Linked DNA regions of Homo sapiens. The protein of the gene in region 4 purifies or fractionates together with the protein of the main gene of each other region. This does not show direct contact. Each region holds a gene or a part of one and is shown on either strand. Other genes may lie near its edges.

Region 1 (3,136 bases), on a different chromosome or scaffold from region 4:
CCTAATTTTTTTTTGTTTTTGAGACAAAGTCTTACTCTGTCGCCCAGGCTGGACTGCAGTGGCATGATCTCAACTCACTGCAACCTCCGCCTCCCGAGTTCAAGTGATTCTCCTGTCTCAGGCTCCCGAGTACTAGGATTACAGGCGCACACCACCATGCCCAGCTAATTTTTTTTTGTATTTTTAGTAGAGACAGGGTTTCACCATGTTGGCCAGGCTTGGTCTTGAACTCCTGATCTCAAATGATCAGCCTGCCTTGGCCTCCCAAAGTGCTAGGATTACAGGTGTGAGCCACTGCACCTGGCCTAATTTAAAAAATTTTTTTAGAGATAGGGTGTCACTATGTTGCCCAGGCTGGTCTTGAACTCCTGGACTCAATCTTGCTGCCTTGGCCTGCCAAAGTGCTAGGGTTACAGGCATTAGCCACTGCACCTGGCCAAAAAATCCAAACTTTAAAAGCTTACCAGTCCACATATAGCTTTAGTCAGTTTCTTGAATTTTTTGCTTCTTAAGTCACTTGTAGAATCTTCTAATAAAGAATACATGTCTGGATCTAAAAATCTTTAAAAGACAGAAAGACTGATGAATTCAGGAGACTAGGTTTATAAACCAGCCAAACTTCCCATCTAAATAAAACAGAAGGTTCATCTCTGCAACTGAGATCTGATAATAATGGAAGAACAGTGAACTCACTTCTCAATTTCCTTTTTTGCTTTTTTACTCAGCAGATCCATTTTTGTCATGATGTTGACTTGCGGAATTTCTAGAGAGATCATGGCACTCAGGGCTGCCAAGATGCCAGAAATAAACTGAAGGAGGAAACAGAAAAGGGAAGATGAACTGACTGTTGCCAACAGTTACCTGGTCTGCATAAAGAGTCTTCTATTCCTCACTGGAACAGAACTGGCCTAAATAAAAGAAATGCAAGCTGGACGTGGTGGCTCATGCCTGTAATCCCAACACTTGGGGAGGCTGAGGCGGGCAGATCACCTCAGGTCAGGAGTTCAAGACCAGCCTGGCCAACGTGGTGAAACCTTGTCTCTACTAAAAATACAAAATTAGCCAGGCATGGTGGCATGTGCCTGTAATCCCAGCTACTCAAGAGTCTGAGGCAGGAGAATCACTTGAACCCAGGAGGCGGAGGTTCCCGTGAGCCAAGATTGCGCCACCACATTCCAGCCTGGGCAACAACGGCAAAACTTGGTCTCAAAAAAAAAAAAAAAAAAAAAGAAATGCCAGTTCAGAACATGTGGAAAAGGCAAAATTATTTATATTTTATTAAAAGTAATGCTAGCCATATAGAAAAAAATGTTCCCAAATCATTGGGAATCAAATGCTTGATTCTTGGTTCCCAAAGGTGAGGGAAGATATAGATAACATACAGTGATCACAAATTTCAATTTAGACAGCATTTTAATTTCCTTTCCCATCTAATATTCCTTAAGAGCTATTAATAAAAAATTTGATCTTGGTAGTTCATAAACTGGACAAAAGGTCCTCAGAAAATTAAAAATAGACTATTTTATAAAATAGCCATCTGCTTCAGTTTTTTCTCCCCCACTACTTCCTCTTTTTTTTTTTTTTTGAGACAGAGTCTCACTCTGTCACTCAGGCTGGTGTGCAATGGTGCGATCTTGGCGATCTTGGCTCACTGCAACCTCTGCTTCCTGTACTCAAGCGATCCTCCCACTTCAGCTTCCCAAGTAGCTGGGACTACAGGCATGTGCCACAACGTCTAGCTAATTTTTATATTTTTTGTAGAGACAGGGTCTCACTCTGTTGCCCAAGCAGGTCCGAAACTCTTGGGCTCAAGCAATCCTCCTGCCTTGGCCTCCCAAAGTGCTAAGATTATAGCTGTGAACCACTTCACCCAGCAACCTCAGTTTTTTTCTTGGTAAGCAGTTCCTCCTAAATCTCTATGATATAATAATTTACTATTTTTGATTAACAACATGTTATAATTTAATAATAAAAGGGATAAAGTAACTCTGGAATCATTTGTGAAATGTTCAGAATCACACAATAATTAAAGGAACTGTCATCTGCTTGAACTCATAGTTTAAAAATCTTTAAGAGAACTTTGGGAGGCCAAGGCAGGTGGATCACTTGATGTTTGAGGTCAGGAGTTTGAGACCAGCCTGGCCAACATGGTAAAACCCCGTCTCTACTAAAAATACAAAAATTAGCCAGGCATGATGGCACACACCTGTAATTCCAGCTACTCAGGAGGCTGAGGCACAAGAATCACTTGAACTGGGAGGCGGAGGTTGCAGTGAGCTGAGATCACGCCACTGCGCTCCAGCCTAGGCAACAGAGTAAGACTCTGTCACACACACAAAAAAAAAAAAAAAAAAAAAAAAAAAATCTGTAAGAGATTTAGCTTCAGACCTTGAATGACTCCACCATGAACTGAGAATCAACAAGAAAAACTCCACAGACTCGGAACTCCCACTGCTCGAGCTGCTGGACCAGCTGTTTCATCACAGGCAGGTGAGTGTACAACTCAATCTGACCTACATGAAGAGTATTGCAAGAATTTTAGAAATAGCAAGTATGTTAAATCATCAAGTTAGAGGAAACAAATTTTCCCCATAAGATGGACAAAAATAAAAGCCAACACATTTTTAAGGGGCCCACAGCCTCTCAAAGCAATCATAAAACCTAAGGTACTGCCACCATAGGAATCCCTAACTATTAAGTTTTATGTAGAAAATGAGGTTCTCTGGTTGGGCAGGGTGGCTCATGCCTGTAATCCCAGCACTTTGGGAGGCTGTGGCAGGTGGATCACTTGAGGCCAGGAGTTCAAGACCAGCCTGACCAACATAGTGAAACCCCATCTCTACTAAAAATACACAAAAATTAGCCAGGCGTGGTGGTGCGCGCCTGTGGGATGCTGAGGCACAAGAATTGCTTAAACCCGGGAGGAGGAGGCTGCAGTGAGCCAAGATCACGCCACTGCACTCCAGCCTGGGCGACAGAGTAAGACTCTGTCTTTAAAAATAAAAAAAAAGAAAGAAAGAAAGAAAATGAGGTTCTTCACACTTTAGTTTTCTGCCAATCAATATGAGTGTTATTGGCCAGATGCCATGGTTCACACACCTGTAATCCCAGCACTTTGGGAGGCTAAGGTGGGAGG
Region 2 (3,500 bases), on a different chromosome or scaffold from region 4:
TTTCCAGGCTCAGGTGATCCTCCCATCTCAGCCTCAAGTAGCTGGGACTACAGGCATGCACCACCAAGCCCAGCTAATTTTTTATATTTTTTAGTAGAGACAGGGTTTTGCCATGTTTCCCAGCTGGTCTCAAACTCCTGAGCTTAAGTGATCCACCTGTCTGCCTTGGCCTCCCAAAGTGCTGGGATTACAGGCATGAGCCAAGGCGCCTGGCCTGTGGATATTTTTTTGATACTACACCAAAACGGTAAGTTGTAGTTTCTCAAAGGTTGGTTTTGATGTAGAAACTGAAACCATATGAATGAACCTTCTGTATTTATGTTTGAAGTTCATTGGTTTGTCTTGTACTTCAGATGTATCTTTTACACATGCATATTTTGTAGCATCCTAATTGGTCATTTGGAAAATATTGGTTTGCTGAGTTACGTAGATTTTCAAATGTTAACACACTTCATTATAATAAAAAAATTGCATTTGTTAATATGACTACTGATGTCATTAGAAAAGCCTTTAAATATATCAGGAAGCTATCAAGCCCATAGTGGTGCATAGAAGTTTCCTAAAATTCTGATTTTTGCTTGAAGCTCACAATTTTCATCATTTTCAACAAATACTTAAAATTATTTTCCTCAAAGACTTACTTTTTTCGTTTGCTTTCATTTCTTTTTGTTCATTTCTTTGTCTGCCAAATATCTACAACATCGTCAACTTAATTCTAAGTCTGAATTAACATCATGGGTGTTAACATGTTGATGAGTTAACATAGTTGGTGTCAGCTGGCTATTTGAGTAAAAAAGATACTCCATGTTAAAAGGGACTAGTTCAGAATCATGCAAGTGCTTTTGTTCAAGACAGTCATCTTCACTATGCAGTAGAAGTGCTTATGAAGTGTTCCATTTTATTTTACTTTATTTTTTATATAGAGACTGGGTCTTACTGTGTTGCTCTGGCTGGTCTTGAACTCCTGGGCTCAATCCAGCCTCTCACCTTGGCCTCCCAAAGTGCTGGGATTATAGGTGTGAGTCATCGTGCCTGGTTGAGGACTTTCATTTTTTTAAAAGTCACAGGATATGAAAGAGATGTATACTCAAGGGTTAAGGTTTAATAAAACTATTTATTTTCACTGCTTCATTAAGGACATTTTTAAGTAAAACTGGCTTTTCTCCCCTTCACTTGAATGGAGAATATGACTGCTAGTAATGTTTGGTTCTGCTACCCTGAGTTCTGCTAAGGTGTCAGCAGTTTTATTCATGTTTCCACCATCAGTGCAAATGTAAACACAGTGAAAGAAGCAAATATATGTTGTTAGTATTACTATTAAAAATAGCTTTGACTCTCAGGCGGTCCATGAACCACACTCTGAGAACCTCTGCTCTAAAAGATTAGGACACTAAACCTAACCACAGTACCTCCTTAGTATTAAATATCCAGATTTACATTTCCCTGATTATCACATAAGTTTTTTAAAGGTTTGTTGGTTTTAATCAGTATACAGATAAGGTCCATGCTTTGCAATTGATTGATAGTGTCTCATAAGTCCTTTTTTGAATTTATTGGTTGCCTTCCAACCTTTTTTTTCCCCTTGTAATTTGTTTGTTGAACAACCTGGACTGTTTGTCCAGGGCTTGAGACTGAATTTTGCTGCTTGCATCCCAAATGCTGTGCATTGCTGTTTTTTGTTTGTTTGTTTGTTTTTTGTTTTTTGTAAATAGATCTTGAGGCTTGAGATTTAGCGTTTGAGTTTTTTGGCAGTAATACTTTATAGGTGGTATTCTATACTTCCAGTATCTGGTTGCCTTTCTTTTTATGATTTTAGCAGCTATTACTAAAGACCTTAATTAAATGGCGATTTCCAACTGATACCATTCTATTTTTTCTCAGTCCTTCTTCAGTTTTTAGCCAGACTACTTCTAAAACTTTGTTTCCTCAACTGTTTGGTTACCTAGTGATGTAGTTCTTATAGTAAGGGCAGGAATAAATGCTTGATTCTCTTTTTTTATTTACCAGTTTTCAAAATAGTGAGCTGGTTGTCTAATGATCCAGATCAGTGGTCCAAAGTCGACCAATGATTTTTTTGTTTTGGTGGAATATCATTATAAACCCATTGGTTTTATTTTGTATATTTTGGATATTAAGTATGTTAAGGAAGCCATCACCATCTATTTGCCTGGCCATCTGAATAATGCATTTATTTCACTTCTTATGTTGGGGAAACCTATTATCATTTACCTGTTCTTTCCATTACTTCAGCCAACATGTATTTATGATTTCAAGGTTGATTGCCTGGGACAGTCATTCCATTGACAAGCTGCCTTATTTAGATTGTCTTTTTCATTATTCATTTTTTTAGTATAGAGTTGAATTCTAGAAAGTTAAATGATAGCATGATGAACCTCCACTCTATGCTTTATTGTGTCTTATGAGGAAAATTAAATGCTCTACTTAAGAATCTAATGTATCCACTCCATTTGGGGACCTTCTGTTTTTATTTTTATTTGTTAAAAAATAGAGATGGGGTCTCGCCATGTTGCCCAGGCTCCTGAGCTCAAGAGATCCACCCAGTCCACTTCCCAAAGTGCTGGGATTACAGGGGTGAGCCACTTTGCTTAGCCCATTTGGGGACTTTCTAATGCACGTCAAATAGTTGGTAGACTTCTCCTCTCCCCACCAATAGAGAGAATGCTAGGGTATAAAAATTAGAGCCTAGTTATCCGTCTTTGCAAATATTATTCTCCACCTTTGCCATTATTCAAGGCGGTGTTTATAATAAAAAATAAGTACAAAGTAATAATTTTTTTCTCTTAACAGTGATGGTGGCCTGCGTTTTGGAGAAATGGAACGAGATTGTCAGATTGCCCATGGAGCAGCCCAGTTTTTAAGGGAAAGATTGTTTGAGGCATCAGATCCATATCAGGTTCATGTTTGCAATCTTTGTGGAATAATGGCGATTGCCAACACCAGGACCCATACATATGAATGCAGGGGCTGCCGCAATAAAACCCAGGTGTGTATAGACTTTACTGGCAGTTGATATTTGTTTAGAGGAAACTGTGTTGGTCTGATTATCCAGGCAGAATTAGTGTGGCAGAACAGATTGGCATTTTCACAATTTTGATAGCATGCTTCTGTGAGATTCCGAGTTCTAAATAAGGAAAAGATAATTTGATTTTTCTAAAAACCAGTTTAGGTTTTAGTGTGGTAATTTCTCTAAGCTATTCATCTTTTGGAAATAATAAGACTTTGTACAAGGGATTTTAAACAATGAGTTTTTGAAAACCTTTTAGTTGAGGTGGGTGAATATAAATTATGTCTGGCAGAATGGGTAAAATACCAAAGCCTACTAGGAGAAAGAACCACCATAAGCTGAGGTAGCAGAATGTGTGTTCTCAGCTCCACTCATTTATTCATTATCTACAGTACCAGATCTTTGTCTTTTTCTGGGGTAGAGAAGTGGGGTCACTTCAATACAATTCTGCTAATTACCATTTGTTTTTTCTTTT
Region 3 (3,500 bases), on a different chromosome or scaffold from region 4:
AACACAGAAATAAAAGAGATACAGGCTGTCGGCCAGATAGATGGGTGGGGTAGGACATGGGGCAGGTGGAGCAGAGGAAAGAGGAGGGTAGGGTATTGAAAAATGGGTGGTATGTTAAAAGGTGAGGGCAGGGTGAAGGAAAGAGGGTGGGACTTCAAAGATGGAGATGAAATGTAAGGAAAGTTAAGTGATTTGCTCAAAACCCCAGAGATGGTGTTCACCGGCAGAGACTGATGGGCTCCTGAATCTGATGAGTCTGTTGGAGCTACAAAGCTGATGCAGGCAAAGTTCTTGCCCAAAGGGGAAAAAAGGCAAGGGACACGGGCAGACAATGGAACATGCCTCCTTCTTGAAGATGGAATCGAAGCCAGCAATCTTGTTGCCCTTGGTATCGATAAGGGAGCCCTGTGGCTCACACGTGATGACATCTCGGGTCTGCTTGGGCAGTGGCAGCAGCTGGCGAACCTTTTCCAGACTGTCTGACTGGCGCTCCCCCAACTCCTTCTGCAGGCACAGGAAGATGGGACAAGAGTTCAGAGATACAGAAAACAGGGATGGGAAGTCTCAGGGGACAGCACAGAACCTGGCACAGAGAAGACCCCCACTCAGTAAATGCTCACGGCATGAGTAACAAAGAAAAGGCAGACGTGAGAAGGAAAGGTAGAGGGCTCCAGCCAGAAGCAAGTTCCTGAGGCTGGACAGCAGATTCCAGTAACCGCAAACCTTGCCCCCGCTTCCTCTGCTTACCTGCAACTTCTTCGCCAGGTTCATGTATGCACGCTTGTTTTCCTCCATGCTACCTTGCGAGATGCTAGACATGTCTGCAGCCAATGTCCCATTGATGAGCACGCTCAGCATGTCCAACACAGTAGTGAAGAGCTCACTGAGACAGGAAGCCAGAGAGAAAACCAAAGAAGAAAGAGGTGAAGATAGAAAAAGGCCTCAGCAGAGGACACAAGCAGGGAGAGGTGCTTAATATGTCATCCCAAGGGCACCAAAACTGTATGGGGAGCCCAGGGCCACGGAGTCCACAGTAACAGCCACACCAATCTCAGTGGGTGCACCTGGCATGGGAGTAGGGGGAGCTTCTTGGGTATGAAACTGCAGGGAGCGGGTGGGGATGCTTTACTTGTTGGACTGCATGTCGACAGTGCCGCTGATGATGATCTCCAGGAGGAGCATGGCCCACTCCGTGGTCTGCTGGGTGCTGCGCTGCACCGTGTCAAACATGCCCCCCACCTGCCAGGGCCACAACAAGTCAGTCAGATGGCTCAGGGACAAAGGCCAGAGTTTCAGGAAAGCTTAGTTCCAATCTGAGTTGGGACGCCTGAGTTCATGCTTGAGTTTTTTTTTTTTTTTTTTTTTGAGACGGAGTCTCGCTCTGTCACCCAGGCTAGAGTGCAGTGGCGCGACCTCGGCTTACTGCAAACTCCGCCTCCCGGGTTCACGCCATTCTCCTGCCTCAGCCTCCCGAGTAGCTGGGACTACAGGCGCCTGCCACCACGCCCAGCTAATTTTTTTTGTATTTTTAGTAGAGACGGGGTTTCATCGTGTTAACCAGGATGGTCTCGATCTCCTGACCTCGTGATCCGCCCACCTCGGCCTCCCAAAGTGCTGGGATTACAGGCGTGAGCCACCGCGCCCGGCCATGCTTGAGTTGAGCCTATGATTTGCTACATGATCTCAAGACAATGACGGAATTCTTGACGTCTCTAGGCCTCTGTTTCCATACTTAGAAAGTGATGGGAATTGGACAGAATGATTTCCAGGATTCCATTCAACATTCCACAGTGGGTTTCCAGTGCTTCTAGGGCCCAGTCAGAATCTAGGATACTGAGGCAGAGGCCCTGCAAGGATCCAGGGTACATAACCTATTGGACCATGACCACAGTGATCCAGCCCCCTTAACCACTTTCAGTCCCTGCATACTTTCAGAGAACAAGGTTAATACTTCAAGACTCAGGCTGGGCACGGTGGCTCATGCCTGTAATCCCAGCACTTTGGGAGGCCGAGACAGACGGATCATTTGAGGTAAGGAGTTCAAGACCAGCCTGACCAGCATGGTCAAACCCCATCTCTATGAAAAATACAAAAATTAGCCAGGTGTGGTGGTACACACCTGTAATCCCAGCTACTCAGGAGGTTGAGGCACGAGAATCACTTGAACCCAGGAGGTGGAGGTTGCAGTGAGCTGAGATGGCGCCACTGCACTCCAGCTTGGGTGACAGAGTGAGACTCTGACTCCAAAAAAAAAAAAAACCCTTCAAGACTCAGAATAACCTGGGGCCTCTATCCTTACCCCCATTCTCCCCAACCTGAGGCTTTTGCACTCCGCATTTCCAGCCCTACCCTCTTCCTTCTTCTCCCCAGCTGGCCTTCTCACCAGGTTGAGCCGCAGTTTGAGTGCCTCATGCATAAGCTGCTTTGGTTTGCAATCATCTAAGTACTGGTCATCTCGCCAATTATTCACAATCTAGAATAGAAACAAATAAAATATGCAGCTCAGGGATCTTCGTGTTTCCATCCCACAGCAGCCAATATGTTTATCAGAAAGTACTGAAGTTTCCAAGTACAGAGTAACCCCTTAGGTGCATCCTTCCCTGACCTCCTGCCCACCTCCATGGCCCAGAGATCTGTACCTGGTGCACCTGGCTGTAGAGGGAGGTAAGGAGTCCCTCGCGTTGTTCATCCTGCCCTTTCAGACATGTTAGCACCAGCGATAAGAAGGGCTGCTGGCTCAATAGGGACATGCTAGAGACAAGAGAAAGAAGAGAAGAGAAGAGAAGAGAAGAGAAGAGAAGAGAAGAGAAGAGAAGAGAAGAGAAGAGGAGAGAAGAGGAGAGGAGAAAAGGGAGACTGTGGGTTGGGAGTCAACTTCCAACCTCATTCTCCAGACTACTCTCTTAAGATCTAGCCTCTTGCTCAGCCATGCCCACTCTTATCCTCTGATTTTCCACTTTCCTATGATGCTTCTCCTTGGCCCATTTTATTCTTCCCCGGGCCTGCCTCTTCTCCTTTCTACCCCTCAATCTTGGTCCACTCCCTAAGCCCCTTTACCTCTTCTGCTTTTGTCGATCACGTTCTTTGCGTGAAGAGGAACCCAGGTGCTGACCCTTCTCCAATTCTTCCCCAGCAGCCTTTAACACATGTCCCTGGACTGAGGTGGGCAGTTTAGCAATGAGGGGGGCCACCAGCCATACACCAGAGCGCTCTAGAGAGCTGGAGAACAGACAGAGGACACAGGGTCACAGGGGAGCCAGGCAAGGCTGGAACAATCTATCCTCTCCTTTCCCTGATGGACATGCTGGCATCTCCACGCATCTGATATCACTCACGCTACCAGCAGATAAACTCCTAAGGGGATGGGTCCTAACATGTTTCTATCCGACCTGAGCACAGGCTTGGTCTTGCTGCTGCTGGGCATGTTGCTTGCAGTACTTCCAGAAGATGACCCTGTCTCTGCTGACTGTTGGAAAACCTCGATTGTGGCCTTGGCGATG
Region 4 (3,361 bases):
CGGTTCAAGCAATTCTCCTGCCTCAGCCTCCTGAGTAGCTGGGATTACAGGCGCATGCCAACACGCCCGGATAATTTTTGTATTTTTAGTAGAGACAGGGTTTCACCATGTTGGCCAGGCTGGTCTTGAACTCCTGACCTCAGGTGATCCACCTGCCTCGGCCTCCCAAAGTGCTGGGATTACAGGCATGAGCCACCACACTCAGCTTCCTATACGTTTTTTAAAAGTTAGTAAGTGGATGAGCTTTTGAAAACAAGTGGTTGAGACCAAAACTAAAAGGCAATTCAGTAAGCTGTTCTGAAAGTAAGCCATTGAGGCATAAGAGGGAAAAACTGTCAATGATCATTAATTTTTTCAAATAAATGTTCATCCGTAGTGGGAAATTTCAACCCAGATGGTGCTAATTCATGTTTACTATTCATCATTTCTCTGCTTACGCAGGCAGAATATCCATCTTTCCTGGCGATCCATCAGTTACGTCTCACACCTTGCAAATCAGATGGCCACCATGGCCAGCTCAGTATTTACCAACAGCTCTAAACTCAGAGGGAGGGTATGGAGAATCAATCACTTCTTCCAGGAAATGAGAGGCCAGGAAATGATGCCCTCAACTGAGAGACACCATTAACAGTATACCTTATCGCAGATTCTAGAGAGGATGAACTGGTATTCATGAGAACTAAAAATCCTTTGGAAGGAAGCAAATAGGGAACGTCTTTTATTTTAATTCTTTGAAGTCTCAGCTCTGATCCACAAATGTGGACAGAAACCATCTGCACTTCTGAAATCCTTCTACTCGGATGGCATGCGTGTTAACATACCGTTACGAATTTAAGTCCCAAGGAAGTTTTAAAATTAAAATATAGTTTTTAAAAAAACCGACTCACATGAGTCTCAAAGGACATGGTAAAACAAACAAAAAAGTACTTAAAATAGAAATGTGGATGACAGATAATCCCATTCTTGAAGCAAACATAACCTGGCCCAAAAGAAAATTTAGTTCTGAAAGTTGAAAGTGGGTCATGTTTAAGATGCTCATCTCTGAAAACCCCCAAATAGCAAGGGTTGCGTGTTCTTTGGTGAACTTTCAGGAAAGGAGACAGTCTTCAGATAATAAAAAAGGAGCTGTAAGACAAGCCGCCTGGAGGGCAGCTGAGCCAAAAGGGGCCATGCAGCCCACAGGGAGGCCCCTCTGCAAGCCCAACTGCCCTAGTTGGTGGAGGTAAATAGCATGGAACTCCTGGAGTGAAGAGAACATGCTATTCAGAAGTGGGCATCTGCTAAGCCAGGATGACTGTGAAATATTCAAGCCAAAAGAAAAGGGACAGGACCAAATACCGAGTGAATAAAAGCAGAAAGCTCTAAGTGGGCCTACCTTTGTGTTCAAGGTTAGTCATCGGCCAACTATAGAAGGAATGAAAAAAGCCACTAGGTCAAGGAGGATGAACATCGTACAAACAAGGCAAGGTCAGAGCACTTTGGTCCCAACTACTGTGGTACTGTGGTTTCTTTTTTTCTTTTTTTTTTTTGAGACAGAGTTTTACTCGTTGCCCAGGCTGGAGTGCAATGGTGCGATCTTGGCTCACTGCAACCTCCGCCTCCCGGGTTCAAGTGATTCTCCTGCCTCGGCCTCCTGAGTAGCTGGGATTACAGGCATGCGCTACCACGCCCGGCTAATTTTGTATTTTTAGTAGAGATGGTGTTTCTCCACGTTGGCCAGGCTGGTCTCGAACTCCCGACCTCAGGTGATCCGCCCACCTCAACCTCCCAAAGTGCTGGGATTACAGGCGTAAGCCACCGCACCCAGCCCCCTACTATGGTTTTTTTAAAGAGTGGACAAAAATACTACCGCCAGGGGTGATCCTCTGAGCATCCTTCCCACGTCTGACAGACAGTTGTATCCGTGTCACCAGACTCAAAGGCAAACATCACAGGGTTTTAGGCAGGTGTCTGAGAATCATGCCCTGATTTTCTTTGTTCTTCTTTTTAGCATGGATGCTTTAGTACAGATGCAAACTGGCCAATAACTCTGCTAGAACCACTGACACAGACTTCCTCCCAAATCTGACAGTCATTTCTTTTGACCTTTTGGTGGCATCTGACTCAGTTTCCCATTTCTTCTTCCTCACAACTTCCATGCACTGTGCCTCACACTCCACTCTGTCCCAGCTGCCTTGCCCTCAGACCAGCCCTTACCAGTCCATTCCTCTGCCCACAGGCTCTCCTCGCACGGTACTAACTCCAGTGGCTTTCATTTTTCTAAGATCACTTTTTTAAAAAATGACAGTAATAGGTACTTGAGGGAAAAAATTCAAAAATGAGACAACCAAGGCTTAGAAAAGGGAAATCTCATTAACCCCTTGTTCCAGAGATAACCTCTGCTAACATGTGGTGTCCACTGTTTCAGATGGCTTTGAAATGTACAACAGCATACAAAACACACAAACTTTTCTTATTTGTTCTGACAGAAATGTGACCATCCATAGTTCTCATTCTTGCTTTTTCTACTTAACAAGGCACCTCAGATGTCCTTCCATGTTAACACATATACAATTAGACAGCGAAATTACCCTGGCTATTCATGGGTGGTTGTACTGTACTAGAATGACAGTGAACATCTTGTACTTATACCCTTATGTACTTGTGTGTCCGGAATTGGTGGGTTCTTGGTCTCACTGACTTCAAGAATGAGGCCACGGACCCTCACAGTGAGTGTTACAGCTCTTAAGGTGGCGCGTCTGAAGTCTGTCCCTTCTGATGTTCAGATGTGTTCGGAGTTTCTTCCTTCTGGTGGGTTCGTGGTCTCGCTGGCTCAGGAGGGAAGCTGCAGACCTTCGCGGTGTGCGTTACAGCTCTTAAGGCAGCATGTCTGGAGTTGTTCGTTCCTCCCGGTGGGCTCGTGGTCTCGCTGGGCTCAGGAGTGAAGCTGCAGATCTTCGCGGTGAGTGTTACAGCTCATAAAAGCAGCGTGGACCCAAAGAGTGAGCAGTGGCAAGATTTATTGCAAAGAGTGAAAGAACAAAGCTTCCACAGCATGGAAGGGGACCCAAGCGGGTTGCCACTGCTGGCTCCGGCAGCCTGCTTTTATTCTCTTATCTGGCCCCACCCACATCCTGCTGATTGGTAGAGCCGAGTGGCCTGTTTTGTCACGGCGCTGATTGGTGCATTTACAATCCCTGAGCTAGATACAAAGGTTCTCCCCGTCCCCATCAGATTAGTTAGATACAGTTTGGACACACAGGTTCTCCAAGGCCCCACCAGAGCAGCTAGATACAGAGTGTCGATTGGTGCATTCACAAACCTTGAGCTAAACACAGGGTGCTGATTGGTGTGTTTACAAACCTTGAGCTAGATACAGAGT
Region 5 (3,500 bases), about 22 Mb from region 4:
GAAACAGGCAGGAAGATCAACACTGTTGGCACTGGTGATTGAGGAGAAGGAAGGGGTCCTTCAAAAAAAAGAGGGTGGAAGGGTTGGATTCTGACTTGATATAAAAATGAAAAACCCAAACACCTTTTTTTTTTTTGAGACAGATTTTCCCTCTTAATGCCCAGGCTAGAGTGCAATGGCGTGATCTTGGCTCACTGCAACCTCTGCCTCCCGGGTTCAAGGGATTCTCCTATCTCAGCTTCGTGAGTAGCTGGGACTACAGGTGCCCGCCACCACGCCCGGCTAATTTTTGTATTGTTAGTAGAGATGGGGTTTCACCATGTTGGCCAGGCTGGTCTTGAACTCCTGACCTCAGGTGTTCCACTTGCCTCAGCCTCCCAAAGTGCTGGGATTACAGGCGTGAGCCACCATGCCTGGCCACAAACACCTATTCTTAAACATGTATGTATCACACAGACACATAAGTACAAACTCTCAAAAGCTCACTCTGTGAAACTTCCTACCCCCAATTCCCAGACATGCTATTGGTTAACACTGTAGAATTTAATCAAACATTTATCCTGAGGCATGTTCTCCAGTTATTACTCCAATGTAACTAATGAACGTAAGATAAAAGGGGGCACTCATTAAGCCAGAGGAATTAGCACAGTTCTCTTCTTTCCCTTTCAGTGCAGAGAATGTGTTCTACGAGCCGACTTTGGAGAGGAACACTCAGATATCAAACAAAAGAGAAACCAATGAATGGATAAAACAAAAGGCCAACCTCTAGAAATTCAAGTGGGGTAACAGCCAGGTTAAAACTTGTTACATACTGCGCTTTGAGAAAAATTGACTTTGCTACTCTAAAATTATATTTAACTTACCATTTATTGTCAACTGGATGTGACCCCATAATTAATGGTGCAATTGGGAGTTTGTACACAGCAGATGTTCCTTCAATTGTCACTGATGCATTCATGCCCAAAGATCGAGAAACTGGGGATAGGAAAGAAAAAGGGTATTCCTCAAAGTAATACAAATGATGGGAATCACAGTATGTTTTAAGAGGTTAATTTTTGCAATATTTGTCAGCTATAATTTATCAGATGCTGTTATTCCCTTATTTATTTATTTATGTATTTATTTATTTATTTTGAGACAGAGTCTTGCTCTGTCACCCAGGCTGGAGTGCAGTGGCGCAATCTCAGCTCACTGCAAGCTCCACCTCCTGGGTTCACACCATTCTCCTGCCTCAGCCACCCAAGTAGCTGGAACTACAGGCGCCCATCACCATGCCCGGCTAATTTTTTGTATTTTTAGTAGAGATGGGGTTTCACCATGTTGGTCAGGATGGTCTCGATCTCTTGACTTCATGATCCGCCCATCTTGGCCTCCCGAAGGACTAGGATTACAGGTGGGATTACAGGTGTGAATCACTGCGCCCAGCCTATTTATTTATTTTTTTATTGGAGGCAGAGTCTCACTCTGTCCAGACTGGAATGCAGTGGTGTGATCTCGACTCACTGCAATCTCCACCTCCCAGGTTCAAGAAATTTTCATGCCTCAGCCTCCCACGTACATGGCATTACAGGAATGCACCACCATGCCTGGCTAATTTTTTTGTATGTTTTGTAGAGATGGGGGTTTCATCAGGTTGGCCAGGCTGGTCTCAAACTCCTGGCCTAAAGTTGATCCACCCATCTCAGCCTCCCACAGTGCTGAAATTACAGGCATGAACCACCAGGCACGGCCTGTAGTTCCTATAAAACTTAGAAATCAGGCCAGGTGTGATGGCTCATGCCTGTAATCCCAGCACTTTGGGAGGCTGAGGCGGGTGGATCACAAGGTCAGGGGTTCAAGACCAGCCTGCAGAAGACGGTGAAACCGCATCTCTACTAAAAACACAAAAATTAGCCAGGTGTGGTGACAGGCGCCTGTAATCCCAGCTACTCAGGAGGCTGAGGCAGGAGAATCACTTGAACCTGGGGGGCGGAGGTTGCAGTGAGCCGAAATCGCACCACTGCACTCCAGCCTGGGCGACAGAGTGAGACTCTGTCTGGGGAAAAAAAAAAAAAAAATTAGAAATCCTGGAAGTTACCTTTCTAATCAACCAATAATTTTTGTCAGTAAATAAAACACAAGAAACAATGCAGTCCAAAAACATCATTTTTGAAGGGTTCAGTATCAATATTTACTTATTTTTTCTTCAGAATGCATTTAAGTAGGATCATAATAAAAGGACAGGCTGGTGCACTGGCTCACACCTGTAATCCTAGCACTTTGGGAGGCCAAGGCGGGAGGATGGCTTGAGCCCAGGACTTCGGGGGCTGTAGTGAGCTGTGATCAAATCACTGTACGCCAGCCTGGGCAACACAGTGAGACCTACCCCGTCCCCCATGCCAAATTATAATAACAATAAAGGAGCCTGACGCCAAGGCTCGCACCTGTAATCCTAGCACTTTCGGAGGCCAAGACAGGTGGATCACTTCAGGTAAGGAGTTCAAGACCAGCTTGGCCAACATAGTGAAACCCCATCTCTACTAAAAATACAAGAATTAGCCGGGTGTGGTGGTGCATGCCTGTAGTCCCAGCTACTTGGGAGGCTGAGGCAGGAGAATCACTTGAACCCAGGAGGTGTAGGTTGCAGTGAGCTGAGATCGCACTACTGCACTCCAGCCTGGGTGACAGAGTGAGACTCCATCTTAAATAAATAAATAAACAAACAAACAAACAAACAATAAAGGGATGGAGTCAATGAGTGAAGCTACAAAGGGACCTAAGGAGGTATTAGTCCATTTCACTTTTTTTTGAGACAGAGTTTTGCTCTTGTTGCCCAGGCTGGAGTGCAATGGCACAATCTCGGTTCACTGCAACCTCCGCCTCCCAGGTTCAAGCGATTCTCCTGCCTCAGCTTCCTGAGTAGCTGGGATTACAAGCATGGGCCATCACGCCTGGCTAATTTTGTATTTTTAGTAGAGACAGGGTTTCTCCATGTTGGTCAGGCTGGTCTCGAACTCCTGACCTCAGGTGATTCGCCCACCTCAGCCTCCCAAAGTGCTGGGATTACAGGCATGAGCCACCGCGCCCGGCAGTCTATCTCTCTTTATCTTTTCTTGTATCAAGGGCAAACAGAAAATAATGTCCATTACCATAGTTCTTTAATTTAGAAAACTTCACTTTTTTTTTGATCAGTAACTCACTACGTTGCCCAGGCTGGAGTACCATGACTATTTACATGCACGATCATGGTATGCTACAGTCTCAAACTCCTGGGCTCAAGCAATCCTCCCGCCCAAACCTCCCAAGTAGCTAGGACTACAGGCATAAACTACCAGGCCCATCCTTCTACACTTTTTAAACAATGAGTAAGCTGATTATCTCAGGTCAGATCGTTTATATCTCTTCTTATGAGTTGCTCATTTACTTATTTATTCAAAAGTACTTTTTTTCTTTTTTTGAGATGGAGTCTCGCTCTGTCACCCAGACTGGAGTGCAGTGACGCAATCTTGACTCACTGCAAC
Region 6 (3,500 bases), on a different chromosome or scaffold from region 4:
ATGTGTAGTTCCTTTTGCCTTTACTCTTACACTCTTAATCATTTCCAAAGCTACTTATGTCAACACCTTTCCCCCAATTCCCTTCACTGAAGTTGTTTCATATATTTTTAATATAGTTAGACTATTCCTTTCTCAGCACCTACTTGCTTCTTAATTCCTTGCAATCTGGCTTCTACCTCCACCCCCACATTGTTAATGACACTATGTTCTCTCTCAAAGATGTTTTTTTCTTTGGTTCACATCTTTTTCTATGCAGCATAAGACATTGTGGAACTCTTTTTTTTTTTAATTTTTAGGGACAGAGTCTTACTCCATTGCCCAGGCTGGAGTGCAGTGGCATAATCACAGTTTACTGCAGCCTTGAACTCCTGGGCTTAGGCAACCCTCCCACTTCAGCCTAGTTGAGTAGCTAGGACTACAGGTGTGTGCCACCATGCCCAGTTAGTTTTTCTTTAATTTTTTGCAGAGCTGGAATCTTGCTATGTTGTCCAGGCTGGTCTTGAACTCCTGTTCTAAAGCAATCCTCCTGCTCCAGCCTCCCAAAGTGTTCGGATTATAAGCAGGAACCACCATACCTGGCCTGTGCAACTCTTAAATGTTATCAAATTCCAAATTTCTACTGCTGGCCTCACATTTTTAAGAGGATGTTCTACTAACATATTTATACTTAGAATGTCAAAGATTAAATTTAATTCTTTTCAGAACTCACTTATTCTCTTTTTCAGTACCAGCTTCAGCTCCCCAACCCCCAGGCAAAAAAACCTCAAAACACATTTCTGACTCTTCTTAAATCCCTTCTTTTTATAAGAACTGCTGACTCTATCGCTCAAATCTGGCTTGTTTGTTCTTCTTGCTGGCTGCCAATATTCGTTTAAGCCTTCATTAGTGTTCACTGGGATGACTTCAGCAACTTAAAAATTATTTTTTCCACTTTAAACTTGTTAGGTTTTATTTCTCATAGCACCCTGTGGTAAGTGACAGCACTCAATACAGTTTGCAGTTTTACTGTATTTCAGAAGGTTTTTGTTTTTAAATTGTGTTAAGATATACAAAATTTTTGCAAAACTGAAACTCTGTATCCATTAATCACTCCCTATACCACCCTTCCTCCAGCCCTACCATTCTACTTTCTATCTTTATTAATTTGACTAAGTATTCCATGTAAGTGTAATCACACAATATTTGTCTTTGTTACTGGCTTATTTCACTTACCATAATGTCCTCAAGGTTCATCCATGTTGTGGGATGTAAATAACTTCAAAATTTGTCTAATTCTACCTGCCCTCTCCTCCAATTCATCTTACATAATTCTGTCAGATTTACCTTCCTAATGCACAATGCTAGCATTACCCTCATGTGTGAAAATAAATAAAACTGGCCAGGCACAGTGGCTCACGCCTGTAATCTCAGCACTTTGGGAGGCTGAGGTGGGTCAGATTTACCTTCCTAATGCACAATGCTGGCATTACCCTCATGTGTAAAAATAAATAAAACTGGCCAGGTGCAGTGGCTCACGCCTGTAATCTCAGCACTTTGGGAGGCCTGAGGTGAGGAGTTTAAAACCAGCCTGGCCAAAATGTTGAAACCCCATCTCTACTAAAAATACAAAAATTAGCCCGGCGTGGTGGCACACACCTGTAATCCCAGCTACCAGGGAGGATGAGGCAGGAGAATCGCTTGAACCTGGGAGGCAGAGGTTGCAGTGAGCCAAGATCGTGCCACTGCACTCCAGCCTGGGCGGCTGAGCGAGACTCCATCTCAAATAACTAACTTTCATTACTGTCAATAGAACAAAGTGCAGATTCCTTCATTTAGCATCGAAGGCCCTCTATTAGCTGAAATTAGGTAAGGAGTTTTCCCCACTATTTCCTTACTCACCATTCAGTTAATCTAACTCATGAGCTTTCCCTATTTGACTAAACTATTCAGTGTTCTTAGACTGTCTATCTCTTGCATTTCCCCAGTTCAACTTCCTTCACCAAGTTCTACTTAATCCTTTCTGGATTCATGAAACAATCTTTTCCCACCCAAAACATTCACAGCATTCTCTGTAACTCTCTTATACTATTTATTTCCTTCTGTATTAATATTTTTATGTTTCTGTCTTCTTTTTTTGTCCTTAAATTCCTTGTATTTTACCTTGGTACCAATGCCACTGCATTGGCACAGTGTTTTCCAGTGATAATGATGTTGTTGTCATTGAAGATGATGATGATGATGATAGCCCCTAAAGTTTACCAAGTATTGTGGACCAATATATGTCCCCCTCCAAAATTCGTATGTTGAAGCCCTAACTCCTAGTACCTCAGAATGTGACTGTATTTGGAGAGAGGGTCTTTAAAGGGATAAGATTAAATGAGGACAGGCCAGACATGGTGGCTCACACCTATAATCCCAGCACGTTGGGAGGCCGAGGCTAGCGGATCACGAGATCAGGAGTTTGAGACTAGTCTGGCCAACATGGTGAAACCCCGTCTCTACTAAAAAATACAAAAATGAGCTGGGCATGGTGGCACATGCCTGTAGTCCCAGGTACTCAGGAGGCTGAGGCAGGAGAATCACTTGAACCCAGGAGGCGGAAGTTGAAGTGAGCACTCCAGCCTGGGCGACAGAGCGAGACTCTGTCTCAAAAAAAAAAAAAAAAAAAAGAAAGAAAAAAAAAAGATTAAATGAGGACATAAGAGTGGGGCCTAATTCTGTAAGACTATTGTCCTCACATGAAGAAGACAGCAAACCAGGAGTGTGTGTGCTCACAGAAAGGTCCATGTAAGAATAGCCAGACACCTTGATCTTGGATTTCCATGCTCTAAAACTGTGAGAAAATACGCTTCTGTTGTTTAAGCCACCTGTTCTGTGGCATTTTGTTATGGCAGCCTCAGCAAAGTAACATACTAAGCAAGGCACTGTTCTAAAAGCTTATATTAACTCATTTGGTCCTCATAACAACCCAACAACACAGGAACGGGTTTGCACATAGATATTAATATCTACCCATAAGAATGACATAATAGTCATTAGAAAACAATAAAATACAATAAAATTCGGAAACAGAATTTTTTCTTTACTCTTACAAGATTAAAAGCCACTGAGTTGATGTTTTTGGATTGATAATTACTATCCATTTTAACATTAAAAGTAATATCTTTATATCTTTTTAAAAAAAAACCTTTTAGCTTGATTTTTTTGCCAGATACACTAGATATAAAGTTATCCTCAGGAAATTTAATAAAGCCAACCAATCTCATATGTCTCATAAACTAAAAAAAAAAAAATCTATGTACTCTGGAGCTTTCTTTAGAATTACATCCTTAAAGCAGATATACTTTTTGCACTTACATACAGAAGTAGCAGCAGCAATCAATCTTGTATTTGAAACTACTCCAAATTCCTAAAGAAAGAAAAGCAGGTACATGTTAACCCAATGAATCTAAGGGTATCTGAACTCTATTCAAAACAGGATTTCCTTGCTCCTGTTTACAATCTGTTCACCTTCTAACTAC
Region 7 (3,500 bases), on a different chromosome or scaffold from region 4:
CACAGCACCAGTCCCAGACAGGACAGGGGACATTTGCTGTCTGTGTTTTTTTTTTTTTTTGAGATGGAGTCTCGCTCTGTCGCCCAGGCTGGAATGCAGTGGCATGATCTCAGTTCACTGCAAGCTCCGCTTCCTGGGTTCATGCCATTCTCCTGCCTCAGTCTCCCGAGTAGCTGGGACTACAGGTGCCTGCCACCACACCTGGCTAATTTTTTGTATTTTTAGTAGAGACGGGATTTCACCATGTTAGCCAGGATGGTCTCCATCTCCTGACCTCATGATCCACTTGCCTCAGCCTCCCAAAGTGCTGGGATTGCAGGAGTGAGCCACCACACCCGGCCGACATTTGTTGTCTTTAATCATGAGGACTGGGAGGGAATGGGAAAGGGCTGGGGACCCCAAGCCTAGGATCCTGTGCTGACTCCAACCCTGGAGTGACTGACTCCATGCCCAGCCTCCTGCTGTCCCCTCCCCTCTCTGGGCTGTCTGCTCCAAATCAGTCCTGGCCCCACTTCACCTTCCCAGCCAGAGACGGGGGCCTCCTCTGTCCTCCTAGTCTTATGGGTTCAAGTGTGCCCCCTTCAAAAAGACAGGTTGAGGTCCTAAGCCCCAGTACCTCAGAAGGTGACCTAATTTGGAAAGATCTTTACACAGGTAATCGAGTTAAATTGCGGGCCCTAATCCACTATGGCTGGTGTCTGTGAAAAGGAGAAACGTGGACACGGACACACACACAGAGGGAAGACACAAGGACACAGAGAGACACAGGGAGAGGCCATGTGAGGACGGGTGATGCAGCCTCAGCAGGCACCAGGAAAGGCAGAAGGGCCCTTCCCCTGTAAGATTTCAGAGACAGCCTGGCCCTACCACCTGGATTTTGGACTTCCAGCCTCCAGAACCCTGAGACATCAATTTCCATTCTTCTGGCCAGTTTCTCATACTTTGCTACGGCAGCCTGGGAAACTAACACACACAGACTCTCGTTTCTCCTCCGCCTGATCTGCAGTCGCGTCGCAGCATCCGTCCCACATGGGTTGTGGCCCGGGGATGGCCTCTCCTCAAGGGCAGCTGTGGTTGCCACCATTATTCCGGTCACGTGGTCGTGAGAGGCTGACCTTTGCTGCAGGGGACGTGTGTGGAGACCGAGCACCCCTCTGAGGGTCTTGAGGGCCCTGTCCCCCTGAAGTGTGGTCTCTGATCCTACCTCTCCCACAGGCGGGGATGGGGTCTGAGTCCTCTCTTACCCCCAGGCTTGCCCACCACAGCGGGGCACATGTGAGGCCTCAGGAAATGTAGGCTAAGTGAATGAACGTCTACAGGCCCAACCGTGTCCATCAAGACTGGAACCAACCCAGGCCCTCGGCCCGGCATCGGCCCAGCATCCGAGGCCTCCGAGTCCTGCACCCCGTCCATCTCTCCTGCTCCATGCCCGCACCTATAGGTCCTCTCAACTGACAAAGCCCAGACATCCAGGTCTCTGCATGTGCTGGAACACACCCATTCCGGCCCGGATGGAATCCAGCTAAACTACGACACCCATCCTGGTGTGCCCTCCTATAGGAAGCCTTCCCTACATGCCACCTAATTTTACGGCCTGCCCTTAGTCACATCATAGATCACCCGATACTGCAGCTGTCAAGCTTCTCTCCGCACCCTGTGCAGCCCTCCAAGAGAGACACCAAGGCGTCTGACCCTAGGTCACACAAGGCCTAGGAACCATCTGCTGAGTACTCAGTGCACTGGTGGCCTGGCAGGGCCATGCAGCGGGGCTCTCCGCTTCCTGCCTGAGTTCTCGCACTGATTTCCTTCCAGTCCCACTCGGCCCGGCCAGTGAGCACACTGAGCCCCTGAGCCTTCTTCCTGCTCTCAGGGCACTCGGGCGCTGCTCCCAACCCACCACACACTTCCCAGCCCTCCTCTTCCTAGCCATCAAAACAGCTTTTGTTTTTGAGACGGAGTCTCGCTCTGTCTCCCAGGCTGGAGGGCAGAGGCACATCTCCGCTCACTGCAAGCTCCGCCTCCCGGATTCACGCCATTCTCCTGCCTCAGCCTCCCTCGTAGCTGGGACCACAGGTGCCCGCCACCACGCCCGGCTAATTTTTTTAATTTTTAAGTAGAGACGGGGTTTCACGGTGTTATCCGGGATGGTCTCGAACTCCTGACCTTATGATCCACCCGCCTCGGCCTCCCAAAGTGCTGGGATTACAGGCGTGAGCCACTGTGCCCGGCATCAAGACAGCTTTGCACGCAGAAACTTCAACTGTGTGCAAAGAGTTGGGGTGAACCAACTCTGGACCCAGCTGTTCTGCTACAGGTGAAATTAAGCCAATATTTTCCTGGGCCTTTCTGGGACTCGAGCCAAAACCACCCTGGCTGGGGATGGGGGGATGGGGGAATGGGGAGCTAGTGCTTCATGCATATGGGGTGTCCTCTTTGGGGTGATAAATTTTTTTTTTTGAGATGGAGTTTCGCTCTTGTTGCCCAGGCTGGAGTGCAATGGCACGATCTCAGCTCACCACTACCTTCGACTTCTGGGTTCAAGTGATTCTCCTGCCTCAGCCTCCCGAGTAGCTGGGATTACAGGCATGCGGCACCACGCCCAGCTAATTTTGTATTTTTAGTAGAGACAGGGTTTCTCCATGTTGGTCGGGCTGGTCTCGAACTCCCGACCTCAGGTGATCCGCCTCCTCACCCTCCCAAAGTGCTGGAATTACAGGCATGACCCTGTAAAACAGTTGGAAGTGACTGGGTGCAATGGCTTATGCCTGTAATCCCAGCACTTTGGGAGGCCGAGGTGGGCGGATCACTTGAGGTCAGGAGTTCAAGACCAACCTGGCCAAAGTGAAACCCTATCTCTACTAAAAATACAAAAACCAGCCAGACATGGTGGTGGGTACGTGTAATCCCAGCTACTCGGGAGGCTGAGGCAGGAGAATCACTTGAACCTCGGGGGCAGAGGTTGTAGTGAGCTGAGATCATGCCACTGCACTCCAGCCTGGGAGAGAGAGAGAGACTCCATCTCAAACAAAACAAAACAAAACAAAACCCTTATGAGGAAAAGTGTGATAAACTAACCAGTTTGAGATGCTAAAACTTGCGTTTCTCTTATTGAACACTAAGTACAAGTCATGTGCTACAAGCTCAAAGGGCGACATGTAATAAACATTTTGTCAAAGAAATGTGGAAAACTTGAACAGAAGAAGCACTATGGCTGGCTGCAAAATATGGCTAAAATATCAAGTTTATGATAAATTCCAAATAAACCCCTTGATATGGCAGACACAAAATAAAAATAAAAGCCCCCTAGGTGACACAAGTGGGCTCTGACTTGGTGTTCCCAAGTCCTCTAACTTACTCCCATTTGTTCTACCCAGTATCATTCCCCGGGGTCTCTGCTGCCCGCTTTCATCGGCTAACAGGTGCCTGGAGCCCCAGGAGGTCAAAATGAGTGAATGTTAACAGCATCCGGCCATGACCAAGGGCTCCCTACACACGGCCTG

The links.
Region 1: the proteins of MED9 (region 4) and GPN3 purify together in Homo sapiens (co-immunoprecipitation; 2 studies listed by BioGRID and IntAct, with this or other methods). This does not show direct contact.
Region 2: the proteins of MED9 (region 4) and POLR2B purify together in Homo sapiens (affinity purification with mass spectrometry; 4 studies listed by BioGRID and IntAct, with this or other methods). This does not show direct contact.
Region 3: the proteins of MED9 (region 4) and MED12 purify together in Homo sapiens (affinity purification with mass spectrometry; 6 studies listed by BioGRID and IntAct, with this or other methods). This does not show direct contact.
Region 5: the proteins of MED9 (region 4) and MED1 purify together in Homo sapiens (affinity purification with mass spectrometry; 9 studies listed by BioGRID and IntAct, with this or other methods). This does not show direct contact.
Region 6: the proteins of MED9 (region 4) and CCNC purify together in Homo sapiens (affinity purification with mass spectrometry; 5 studies listed by BioGRID and IntAct, with this or other methods). This does not show direct contact.
Region 7: the proteins of MED9 (region 4) and MED25 purify together in Homo sapiens (co-immunoprecipitation; 3 studies listed by BioGRID and IntAct, with this or other methods). This does not show direct contact.

Annotation. Positions count from the first base shown.
Region 1 is NC_000012.12:110,455,122-110,458,257, forward strand, and holds part of GPN3 (GPN-loop GTPase 3), read right to left. Parts: intron 2,514-3,136; coding exon 2,389-2,513; intron 810-2,388; coding exon 694-809; intron 562-693; coding exon 465-561; intron 1-464. UniProt on the Homo sapiens protein: Small GTPase required for proper localization of RNA polymerase II (RNAPII). May act at an RNAP assembly step prior to nuclear import.
Region 2 is NC_000004.12:57,027,396-57,030,895, forward strand, and holds part of POLR2B (DNA-directed RNA polymerase II subunit RPB2), read left to right. Parts: intron 1-2,808; coding exon 2,809-3,004; intron 3,005-3,377; exon of another isoform or gene 3,378-3,500. UniProt on the Homo sapiens protein: Catalytic core component of RNA polymerase II (Pol II), a DNA-dependent RNA polymerase which synthesizes mRNA precursors and many functional non-coding RNAs using the four ribonucleoside triphosphates as substrates.
Region 3 is NC_000023.11:71,132,096-71,135,595, reverse strand, and holds part of MED12 (mediator of RNA polymerase II transcription subunit 12), read right to left. Parts: coding exon 3,390-3,500; intron 3,220-3,389; coding exon 3,058-3,219; intron 2,752-3,057; coding exon 2,640-2,751; intron 2,474-2,639; coding exon 2,384-2,473; intron 1,240-2,383; coding exon 1,130-1,239; intron 884-1,129; coding exon 748-883; intron 505-747; coding exon 343-504; intron 1-342. UniProt on the Homo sapiens protein: Component of the Mediator complex, a coactivator involved in the regulated transcription of nearly all RNA polymerase II-dependent genes.
Region 4 is NC_000017.11:17,487,000-17,490,360, reverse strand, and holds part of MED9 (mediator of RNA polymerase II transcription subunit 9), read right to left. Parts: intron 1-3,361.
Region 5 is NC_000017.11:39,423,764-39,427,263, forward strand, and holds part of MED1 (mediator of RNA polymerase II transcription subunit 1), read right to left. Parts: intron 976-3,500; coding exon 864-975; intron 59-863; coding exon 1-58. UniProt on the Homo sapiens protein: Component of the Mediator complex, a coactivator involved in the regulated transcription of nearly all RNA polymerase II-dependent genes.
Region 6 is NC_000006.12:99,555,161-99,558,660, forward strand, and holds part of CCNC (cyclin-C), read right to left. Parts: intron 3,389-3,500; coding exon 3,337-3,388; intron 1-3,336. UniProt on the Homo sapiens protein: Component of the Mediator complex, a coactivator involved in regulated gene transcription of nearly all RNA polymerase II-dependent genes.
Region 7 is NC_000019.10:49,824,789-49,828,288, reverse strand, and holds part of MED25 (mediator of RNA polymerase II transcription subunit 25), read right to left. Parts: intron 1-3,500. UniProt on the Homo sapiens protein: Component of the Mediator complex, a coactivator involved in the regulated transcription of nearly all RNA polymerase II-dependent genes.